Linked DNA regions of Homo sapiens. The protein of the gene in region 3 interacts with the protein of the main gene of each other region in a pairwise test. Each region holds a gene or a part of one and is shown on either strand. Other genes may lie near its edges. The genes, in order: MLH3, DLC1 and TDRD7.

The links.
Region 1: the proteins of TDRD7 (region 3) and MLH3 interact in a two-hybrid assay, tested with the Homo sapiens proteins (one large-scale study listed by BioGRID and IntAct).
Region 2: the proteins of TDRD7 (region 3) and DLC1 interact in a two-hybrid assay, tested with the Homo sapiens proteins (one large-scale study listed by BioGRID and IntAct).

Annotation. Positions count from the first base shown.
Region 1 is NC_000014.9:75,013,468-75,017,126, forward strand, and holds the end of MLH3 (DNA mismatch repair protein Mlh3), read right to left. Parts: coding exon 3,615-3,659; 3' UTR 308-3,614; downstream 1-307. UniProt on the Homo sapiens protein: Probably involved in the repair of mismatches in DNA.
Region 2 is NC_000008.11:13,084,733-13,088,391, forward strand, and holds part of DLC1 (rho GTPase-activating protein 7), read right to left. Parts: intron 1,732-3,659; coding exon 1,558-1,731; intron 1,200-1,557; coding exon 1,079-1,199; 3' UTR 1-1,078. UniProt on the Homo sapiens protein: Functions as a GTPase-activating protein for the small GTPases RHOA, RHOB, RHOC and CDC42, terminating their downstream signaling.
Region 3 is NC_000009.12:97,494,329-97,496,752, reverse strand, and holds the end of TDRD7 (tudor domain-containing protein 7), read right to left. Parts: intron 1,091-2,424; coding exon 870-1,090; 3' UTR 628-869; downstream 1-627. UniProt on the Homo sapiens protein: Component of specific cytoplasmic RNA granules involved in post-transcriptional regulation of specific genes: probably acts by binding to specific mRNAs and regulating their translation.

The DNA.
Region 1 (3,659 bases), on a different chromosome or scaffold from region 3:
TGGCCAAATCCCACTTCTGCAGGCTGCTGCTTGAATCATCCTGGCCTGATAGATTCCCACATGCAGCACACTGCGATTCCCACACGCTTGGATCCGGTTGCCTGGACTATATCCGATGCTTCTGGGTAAGACTGAGTGCTCTGTAACTAATGGGCCTGGGGTGAAAATGATCCAAGGGTTGGAAACATCCTAAGCCATGTGATAACCTCTTTTTTTTCTTTATATCCCCCACAAGTTCTGATACAATACATTTAGAAAGGAACTCACTGAAGATTTGCTGAATGAAGAGAGGGATGGAAGGAAAAAGGAAGGAAGGAAGGGTTTATTTGATGCAGATTCTTCAGCATTTTGTTTTCACAGACTCCCTTCTTTTCCCCTCTTCTGGACCCACCTTTTTGCCATCTCACCGTTGATGAGCAGCTTCAGCTTAGAGGGTAAAGACAGGCATGATCGCGACTGGCCAGCATACTGGCCGGTTCTCTCTGTTAGCAGACTTTTGCCAAGGGTTTGGATGGAATGGGTGGCTCTTCAGGTGGAAAACAGGTCGTGGGGGTCAGGTTTTGGGTGCCTGAAACTGCTCTTCCTTCACTCCACTGTGCCATGACTGGCTCCCACCCGAAGCTTCAGCTGAGCTGGCTTGTCAGGGCTCGCTAGGAACTGCTGAGCTGCATCTGTCCTTACTTGGCGTGGCTTCCTCAGCCCCCTCCACATCTCAAGAACGTGGCCTTGGGCCCCTTTCTGCTCTGACCATTTTGCTTGCCTGGGTTTTTTCACTGTCTGCCATGCGCAGATCCCAGCTGTTCATTTGTACCTGACCTCTGACTGCTAGAACCTCTCCATTCTTACATCTCATGTAGTTCCAGGTCCCCAGCCAGGTTCTGGATGTTACCCAAGCCCCCTCCCCATTCTCCAGCTTCATTCTAGCCTACACTTTATGCTTTGCCTTAAGCTTTTCTGATACTAGCTCCTATTACCATCTCTAGTCTTAATTCTGATAGTGGGACTGCTAGCTCCTCTTCTTTCAATAATAAAGGGCTAGCTGTAACTAGCTGTGACTCTGTGATACCTAACGCCAGAAGAAGCTACTATATTCTATCATTAGTTTCCTTGTCTTTCTCAGTGACTAAAGCTAAGCCTCTTGAAGGTAGAGACAGCCATAGGAACCTTCACTTCTCAATGAAGTGTTGATGAATGTTACAGAAAAAGGAACTCTCAAGAATGGCTGCATTTTACATCTCATCTCTCAAGTTTTACTCTGAAGTTACTAAAGCCTTCAGCGACCAGAATCTAATAAAGGTGAATCACCAAGTTTATAAATGAATGAATTCCTAATAAATTAAAAATATAAGGGATAGCATATGGGTAATAATGGGAAGGACTGTGCAGTTTGAAGTCACTCAGACCTGGGTCTGAATTCTGGCTCTTACAGCTAAGCCTTCAGCAAACCAGTTAACAGCTCCGAGCTTCGAAGTTTTATTATACAAAGGTGACAACTAGGTTCCTAAGAGGAACCTTCGTTTCCCACTTTGTAAAATGGTGATAAAGCTACCACCTTACCTCATGGACTGTCAAGAAACTAAACTAAGATAAAGTATGAGAAAAATTATTTTGTAAACCTTAAAGCACAATATAGGTATTAATGATTACTATTATAAATTACATGTATCTTTGTTCTTATGGCATCTGAGTTAAAAACAACATAAAACCCTAACAGGCGATAAAGGTAATCTATTAGATATTTTTCCCTAATAGGTTGTTTTTATGCTGAGGCATGCCCCCACACTTATAAATTATGAAAACAGAATAATTATCTCTTACATTGCTTGAGTCAGGCTAGTCAGGAAGGCCGGTTACATAATTTATGGAGGACTTTTTCTAATCCTCTGCTACTCTCAAGAAAACAGTAGTTGGGATTACATATAGCAAAACCTTCTGAAATCATAAGAGGCACTGAGACACTTTTTAAAATCCCTCAAATTGGTCTGGCCTTAAAAGATTTTTACAACTCCCAGGACAGTTGGCCTCCATGCAGCCCTCAAGCAGGGAGGCGGAGGCCCTGAGGCCACACTGCCACACTGGGCCTGGAGGCAGAGCCCCTGACAGCCTGGCAAATCCTCTGAAAACTCTCTCCTTTCTAAGGTCATGTCTTCCCATCTATAAAACATCCGTTTATATGTATTTAGAAGAATAAAAGCCATTTTTTAGACAGTAGGGCCTGTTCTTCAGGATTCCAATTACGTAAATCTACAAGGATCCCCTTGAAAACAAGTGAAGGTTTTCTCTGAACCTTCTCTGGGGCAGACGCTAATGAATGCAATACTTTCATTGCTCCTGTAAGATTCACTTCAAGGCTGCTGGCAAAGGAACTTTTCTTCCATGAGCACGAATTGGTTTCCTGTATTAAAAAATGAGGAAAATCATTCAATTGATATAAAAGCCACTTTGAGCAGGCTGGTCAGGAAATACAAAAGTAGAAATTCTCATTGCATCATCTTACTAATTGTATAGCACCCCAGTTGCAATAAACATTACCAGCTGGCTTTTTGCATTTTTTTTCTACTATGCAATTTTAGTCTGTTGAGTCCTATTAACCACAAATCATGTGAAAAGGTGCGGGAAAAATAGATTGAGAATGGCATAACAAGCATTTGCAGAACGATCAGTCCTGGTCCCAAGTGATATTATAAGGGCAATAGATAGGCATAATGTAATAACACCAAGATACCGTTTGAAAGGGACCCAAAGAACCCTTGTCTCCTGAAAGAAAAAGTGTAAAGATATTTGGTTAGGTTGAACGTATGTATGCTGTGTTTTGATATGACAATTGCTTTCACATAAAGAGATACTTTATAAAGTACCAAAAAAAATCATATTTTAAAAAACAAGCTCATAGTATTTTCACCATTTTACTGGTTTGGGATATTGAACATCAGTCTCTGAGTTTTTAAAGAAAACATAACAAAAAACCCGGAACAGGACTTTAAATTTTCTCTGTTCTATCCTTGTCCTTTTTATCAATAGTTTTTATCCCTAAAATAACTAAAGGCCTGATGAAAGACCCTAGAGAATGTTTTCACTGTAGTAGAGAAACTCTTTAAGTCTGAGATGTAGCACATGAAGCAGCAGCATAGGGAAGTGAAGAAGACTGAAGGGAAAAGAGGGGACCAGTGCAGAAACCCTGGGGGCAGCCTGGGAAGGCAGACTACCCCTTGGACTTGAGCATCAGCTGAATTAGATACACGCAAATGTGAAGCTTGAAAAAAAACTGTACAAAAACAAAAATCACACCCTTCAAATAACAAACCAAGCAACCAATCAAACTGTCATTAAATTTTATCATTAAATAAGTAGCAAAAGGTAGATACTATATAGCAACCTTCTGTGCCCATGGATGCAAATGAATGAATTGTCTTTAGGCTTGAATTTCATCTGGCTACTCAACTAGGGGAATCATCTGCTCAAGAAAGACTGATACAGAGAGCCCTGCTGTCTAAGCTGCTCAGGGACACTGGGCTGATTCAGTCAGGGCCGTGCTGGTACCTGCTGCTGCTGCTCTCTGCTCAGAGGCATACAGTGAACATCCCTTTGTTCCTTTTAGACCAGTGATTCTGTTCTCATGGTGGCTCACAGGGAGGCATGGATTGCTGCAGGCTCTGCCT
Region 2 (3,659 bases), on a different chromosome or scaffold from region 3:
TAACAACCAAAGGCGGGGAAAAAGCCTTTTGTAGGTGAGTTAAATTTACAGGGATTTCCTTGGGACACACATAGTTTCCTATATTCCCAAACATAGTGTCTTAAGGCGTTTCTGTTACAAACACAAAAATGCAAAGAATTCTAACAGGGAAAAAGTGTTGATGCTTGATTTAAGAGTAAGTGTTATCGTGTTCAGTTTTTATATCTCGACTTAAACAAAAAACAAAACAAAACAAAACAAAACCCTGTGGATCAGAGCCAGTAAGGCTAGAGGGAGCAGTTCATCCCTGAACTAATCCATACTGGTTAAAACTACATCACTATTTGCAATCGGGTCTAAAAATAAACTGCATTTGGAATGGGTGTAAGAGCCAACCTATTACAATCAAAGTACAGAAGAGGTTCGTGGAAAAGGAATATGCTTAATAACTTCGAAAAAAAATACCCATAAATGGACAAGGGTGTTGGGCCCCCTTTCTGGGTGGATTCAGGGGTAGTCAGATATTCCAGGTTAAACTGAACCTGATGCATCAATCTCCTTCTTGGAGGTGTCTCAGTGTGCCAGACACTGAATCCACCTTAGACATCTATTGCCATTCAGCCAGCAACAAACACACATTCACACTCCTCTGTGCAAACCTTTCTTTGCTCATCTTGGTGAGAAAACACATCCAAGAGTACCAACTATTCCAGTGGATACACCAGTCCCTCAACACACTGCAAATAAAGCGACACAGGTACGCATACACTGATATCACAAGAGAATGAAGTATCTTCATTATCTTCCATAATGTATTTAAAGAGTTTTGCTTCTCAGAAGCAATTTGAATAAGAATACACATAAATTTTTTTTTTTTTTTTGCACAGTCTTACATATTCCAGTCAAGGTCTATGAATACAGACCCTCAACAAACAGGAAGCAGCTTTAAAAATGTATCAAATTGCTATAGTCAATTCCTACACTCCAGCTTGTAGTTTTCTTTGTTTCAGGATTAGACACAGAACCCATTCTTCAAGGACTGGCAAAAGTTCTAGAAACAAACACCATGGTGGTGGAAGCGGTTGCGTTGCTTCAGTGATCACCTAGATTTGGTGTCTTTGGTTTCAGTGTTCTGGTTACTGAAGGAATCCCGGATCTTTACAACTTCAGCTGCACACAAATGTCCAAAAGATTTTGTGTACCATTCTGGCATGTGGCCCCTATCAGAGAAAAGAAAGAAAAGCTGATGAATTATTTAAGTTAGAAAGCATGGAAATAAAATGAGAAACATCTGTTTGCTAGTTCAAATGCATAAAATCTATCATTTCCCATGCCTTTGAATTCATGGCCGAGCTACCATATTTGCTTTGCTTTAGAACCACATTTTCTAAGGGAACCAAATTACGAAGTGGTCGCTGAAAGACCAACAAACATGAAATGCTACTTTCTAAACACCATTCTTCATGAAGTCACCAAGAAAAAATGACGTGTTTGTTTAAGGCATTCTTTGCATTAGACAAAAAGTCAGAATTTCCTTCATGACCCTCACCATATAAAAAAATCAGAATCAGAACATACCTTAAGTCAACTCTGCACATGTAGGTGAGTTTGGATTTTCCTGGCCCACAGGGTTCAATCAAATACCTGGACAAGAGCACATTAACCCTCACACCCACCACAGGTGCGCGATCGTGATCCACAGAGGTTAGTAAAAGGGCACAGGCTCCTTTGGGTAAATTAGTCCTCCAGGTTCTGTAGAGACAAAACCAGAGGCAGAAATGATGGAATTTCATAGAAGCCAAGTTTAAAATCGTGCTTCACTCTTCACTATTTGCAGTGTGGTGACGGGTCAGGCTCAGTGGCCATGCTGTGTGACCCAGGCCTAGGTAAATGGCATCCTCTAAACTACTTGCTATGGTGTACATGTGTTCCCCAAAAAGCATGTGATGGAAAGTGAATGCCCAATACAACAGTGTTGGGAGGTGGGGCCTAATGGGAGCTGGATTAATGCCAATTATAAAAGAGCTTAAGGCTGGGTTCCATGGCTCACGCCTGTAATCCCAGCACTTTGGGAAGCTGGGGAGGGAGGACTGCTTGAGCTCAGGAGTTCAAGACCAGCCTGGACAACATAGTGATACCTCATCTCTACTAAAAATAAAAAATATTAGCCGGGCATGGTGGTGTGCTCCTGTAGTCTCAGCTACTCCGGGGGCTGAGATGGTAGGATTGCTTAAGCTGTAATCATGCCACTGTACTCAAACTTGGGCAACAAAGTGATACCCCCCCATCTCAAAATAAATAAATATAAAAATAAAAATGGCTTGAGGCTGCACATTTGCTCTTTTGCTCTCCCTTGCCCTCTCTTTGCCCTTCCACTATGGGATGACACAGCAAAAAGACCCTCATTAGGCATGGTGGGTGGCCCATGCCTGTAATCCCGGCGCTTTGGGAGGTTGAGGTAGGAGGATCGCTTGAGCCCAGGAGTTTTGAGACCAGCCTGGACAATATGGTGACACCATGTCTCTACCAGAAACAAAAAAATTAGCCAGGTGTGATGGCACATGCCTGCAGTCCCAACTACTTGGGAGGCTGAGGGGGGAGGATTGCTTGAGCCTGGGAGGTGAAGGCTTCAGCAGCCATGAGTGTGCCACTGCACCCTAGCCTTGGTGACAGAATGAAACCATGTCCCCAAATCAATCAAACAACCAACCAACTAACCAGATGCAACTACTTGATCTTGAACTTCCCAGCCTTTAGAACCATGAGCCAAATAAATATCTGTTCATTATAATTGCCTGGTCTGTGAGATTCTGTTAGAGCAGCATTACATGCACGAAGACACTGTACAAGGACTGCTGAATGAGGAACTCTGTACAGAGCCGTTGTTACAGAGGGTTTATGTGCTCAGACAGTCTCCTCTTTGAAAAAAGAGCCCATTTGAAGTGTAGCTTAAAACCATTTTTCTATTTCACAAATGTCTTGGAACACAGACACCTAAAGGAGCGCTGGCTGTTTGAAAAGGTCTGGACTTCCAATGTGACATTTCCACAAAGATTTTTGGAATTCTTCTTTCAGTAATATCTCCAGAGAATTTATGAATTACACATACATCAGCCTTAACCACATCTCCCTTGGGACTCAAATGTTATTTCCTGGCTTATTCATTCACTAGCTGTTTCTGACAAGAAAATCTATCCTAAAAGGGGCAAAAATCTGCTACGAATGAGCATATTCATTGGAAGGGGCCTCTCTTTCTGAGCTCAGTTACCAAAGAGTTCAGACCATTCTCAGCGAGGAACACACTGCTAGAATAAATGTAGATCTGTTTTCCATATTTGAAGGTGTTCACTACTTTTCTGGAAGCATATGTTTTGTTTTGTTTATTCAGAAATAAGGTCTTGCTCTGTTGCCCAGGCTGCGGTACAGTGGCATGCTCACAGCTCACTGCGGCCTCAAACTCCTGGCTCAAGGGATCCTCCTGCCTCGGCCTCCCGAGTAGCTAGGACTACAGGCATGCACCACAACATCTAGCTGATTTTTAAAATTTTTTTGTAGAGATAGGGTCTTGCTATATTACCCAGGCTGGTCTTGAACTGCTGGCCTCAAGTGATCCTCCCACCTTGGCCTCCCAGAGTGCTGGGATTACAGGTGTGAGCCACCATATGCCCGGCCTCTACTTT
Region 3 (2,424 bases):
CGGAGATGACTAAGACCCGTCCCTCTTTCAGGGAGACCATGATCTAGCTGGGGTAATCGGTGCACAGACTAGTCATATACTATAAAACACAGTGACATATGGGCACCAAGAGAGGCATGATCAAAGTACGATGGAGTAGAAAGGGGTACCAGAGAAAGCTTCATGGTTGGCCCAGGAGGTCAGGCAGGACACTGACAAGCAAAAATGATGGGAGGAGAATGAGATGCAGGTTGACAGAATGGAATAAGCAGGGGTTCAGTGACCAAATAAAGGTACAGTGTGGCAGGGAGTGGTAGATAAGGAGGTTGGGTAGGAGGATTGTAGAAAGCCTGGGTCCTAGCTGGACTCTGTGGGCAATGAGAAGAGAAGCCACTCAAGATTTGGGTTGAGGGTCACGTTGGTTTGCCTGGGCTGCTCCTCTAGAAATGCTGATGTGTTAAGACTCAGGATAAGTCCTCACATGCTTTGGTGATCACTTGCTTTGAGATACACTACTACATCAGGGTAGAGTTAAGTCATAATAGTCTCAGCTTCACTGGAGAAGAACCCAGCTCTGCAAGGAAGACAACATGAAACGGAAGCTTTCATCTTAAGATCATGAAGCCTAGAAATTAAAAGGTAGTCAGCTTTTATATTGATAAACATTTTTATTCTAATATTATAGTAATAATTCAAGTACAATTTTCTTTGAAAAGTCAACTCTGTTAAAACAAAACTTGTTAAATATCTTTCATCAAACATAAGCATATTCTTTTCAATCCCCCACAGCAGTCAGAGCCATGTAGCAGAGTTAAGATTTTTTTTAAGCCTACTACATTTTGTTATTGCTAAAAAATCTGAATTAGTTGTCAAGGTTTCAGAGGCAGTCATTAATTAACTTTTGAAAGCTCTATCAGATACTCTGACATAAAATCATGAATCCAGGTATCGGTGTCTGGCAACGATGTGTCCACTAAGTAGACCACTACTTTCCGGTCCCAAGGGTTAGCATTTTCAATGACTGTCTGCACCAGTGCCACCAGAGGTTTCTTCTCCACATGATTTCGAAACACCATAGAAGCCTCCTCAGACCACTGGTTGCACTTCACTCCTAGGAGGAAGAGAGGAAGAAGAGGGAGCAGTGAGGAGTCAAAGGAGCTTTTCTTTGATCCATTATGATGGAAAATTATTTAGTCAATTCCAAAGTAACTTAAGCATCCCAGGTTAGACTTGCCTGAACTGAAAAACGGTTACTGAACAATCTTAAAACACTCCAGCTTATAGTTTTTCTACTCTGAATGGAGTCACTCTGGAAATCTTTAACTAAAAAACAAGTTTCATTTGAGACTTAACATTGTATTATAAAATGAGGTAATAATGACTACTGTACAACCCCCATAAAGTATATGCATATTTAAACTAATAACAGAATAAAATATCAATATCATATTAAATGACATTTCTTTCATTAAAAATTTTTTTTCTGATGGACCAAATATCATAAAAAAAAAGAATTATTGTATGATTCATTTACAGTATAGTTATTTAAAATTATACACAGCATCGTGGGAAAAGCACTGAATTGAAAGTCAACAGACTCAGTTACTATTCCCAGCTTTTCCTCTATCGGGTGGTGTGGTCTTAGGCAAATCAGCTGATCTCACCTATGATAAAAGAACCTGATTGGATCAGATCATGAGAAATCAAGTTAGAGAATTCTAAATTCGATTTTAAAACAAAACTGGGACAAGAAAGTACACATTGGCCGGGCACAGTGGCTCACACCTGTAATCCCAGCACTTTGGGAGGCCAAGGCGGGCAGGTATCTTGAGCTCAGGAGTTCGAGACCAGCCTGGGCAACATAGCCCAGCCCTGTCTCTACAAAAAATACAAAAATTAGCCGGGTGTAATGGCCTGTGCCTATAGTCCCAGCTACTCAGGAGGCTAAGGGAGGAGGATCGCTTGAGCCTGGGAGGTCAGGGCTGCAGTGAGCCGTGACTGCATCACTGTACTCCATCCAGCCTGGGTGACAAAGTGAGACCCTCTCGAAAAAAAAAAAAATATATATATATATATATACATATATATATACATATTTCAAGAAATACAATTAAGTCCACATATACTGGATTACATAAACTGTAAATTATGCCCCAAAGTAATTAAGATATGGAAATTTCAGACATAATTTTGGAAGACTTGCTATCTATATAGCAAATGGGCTAAATTCTTTGATTATTTATTTCCCACAAGAGAAGCCTAGAAATTTCATTTTATCTGCAGCAGCCCTGACAATCTTTGAGCCATGTTATTTAAGAAGAAAAAAGGTAACCCATTGGTAAGGTAAAAGATGATTCCACAGTATGGCTCCCTTTCTTCTAGGATTCAGAAAATTTTGTGCATGGCCATGGTGCACTGATGCAAAGAATGCCCAGGTCAAGGCCA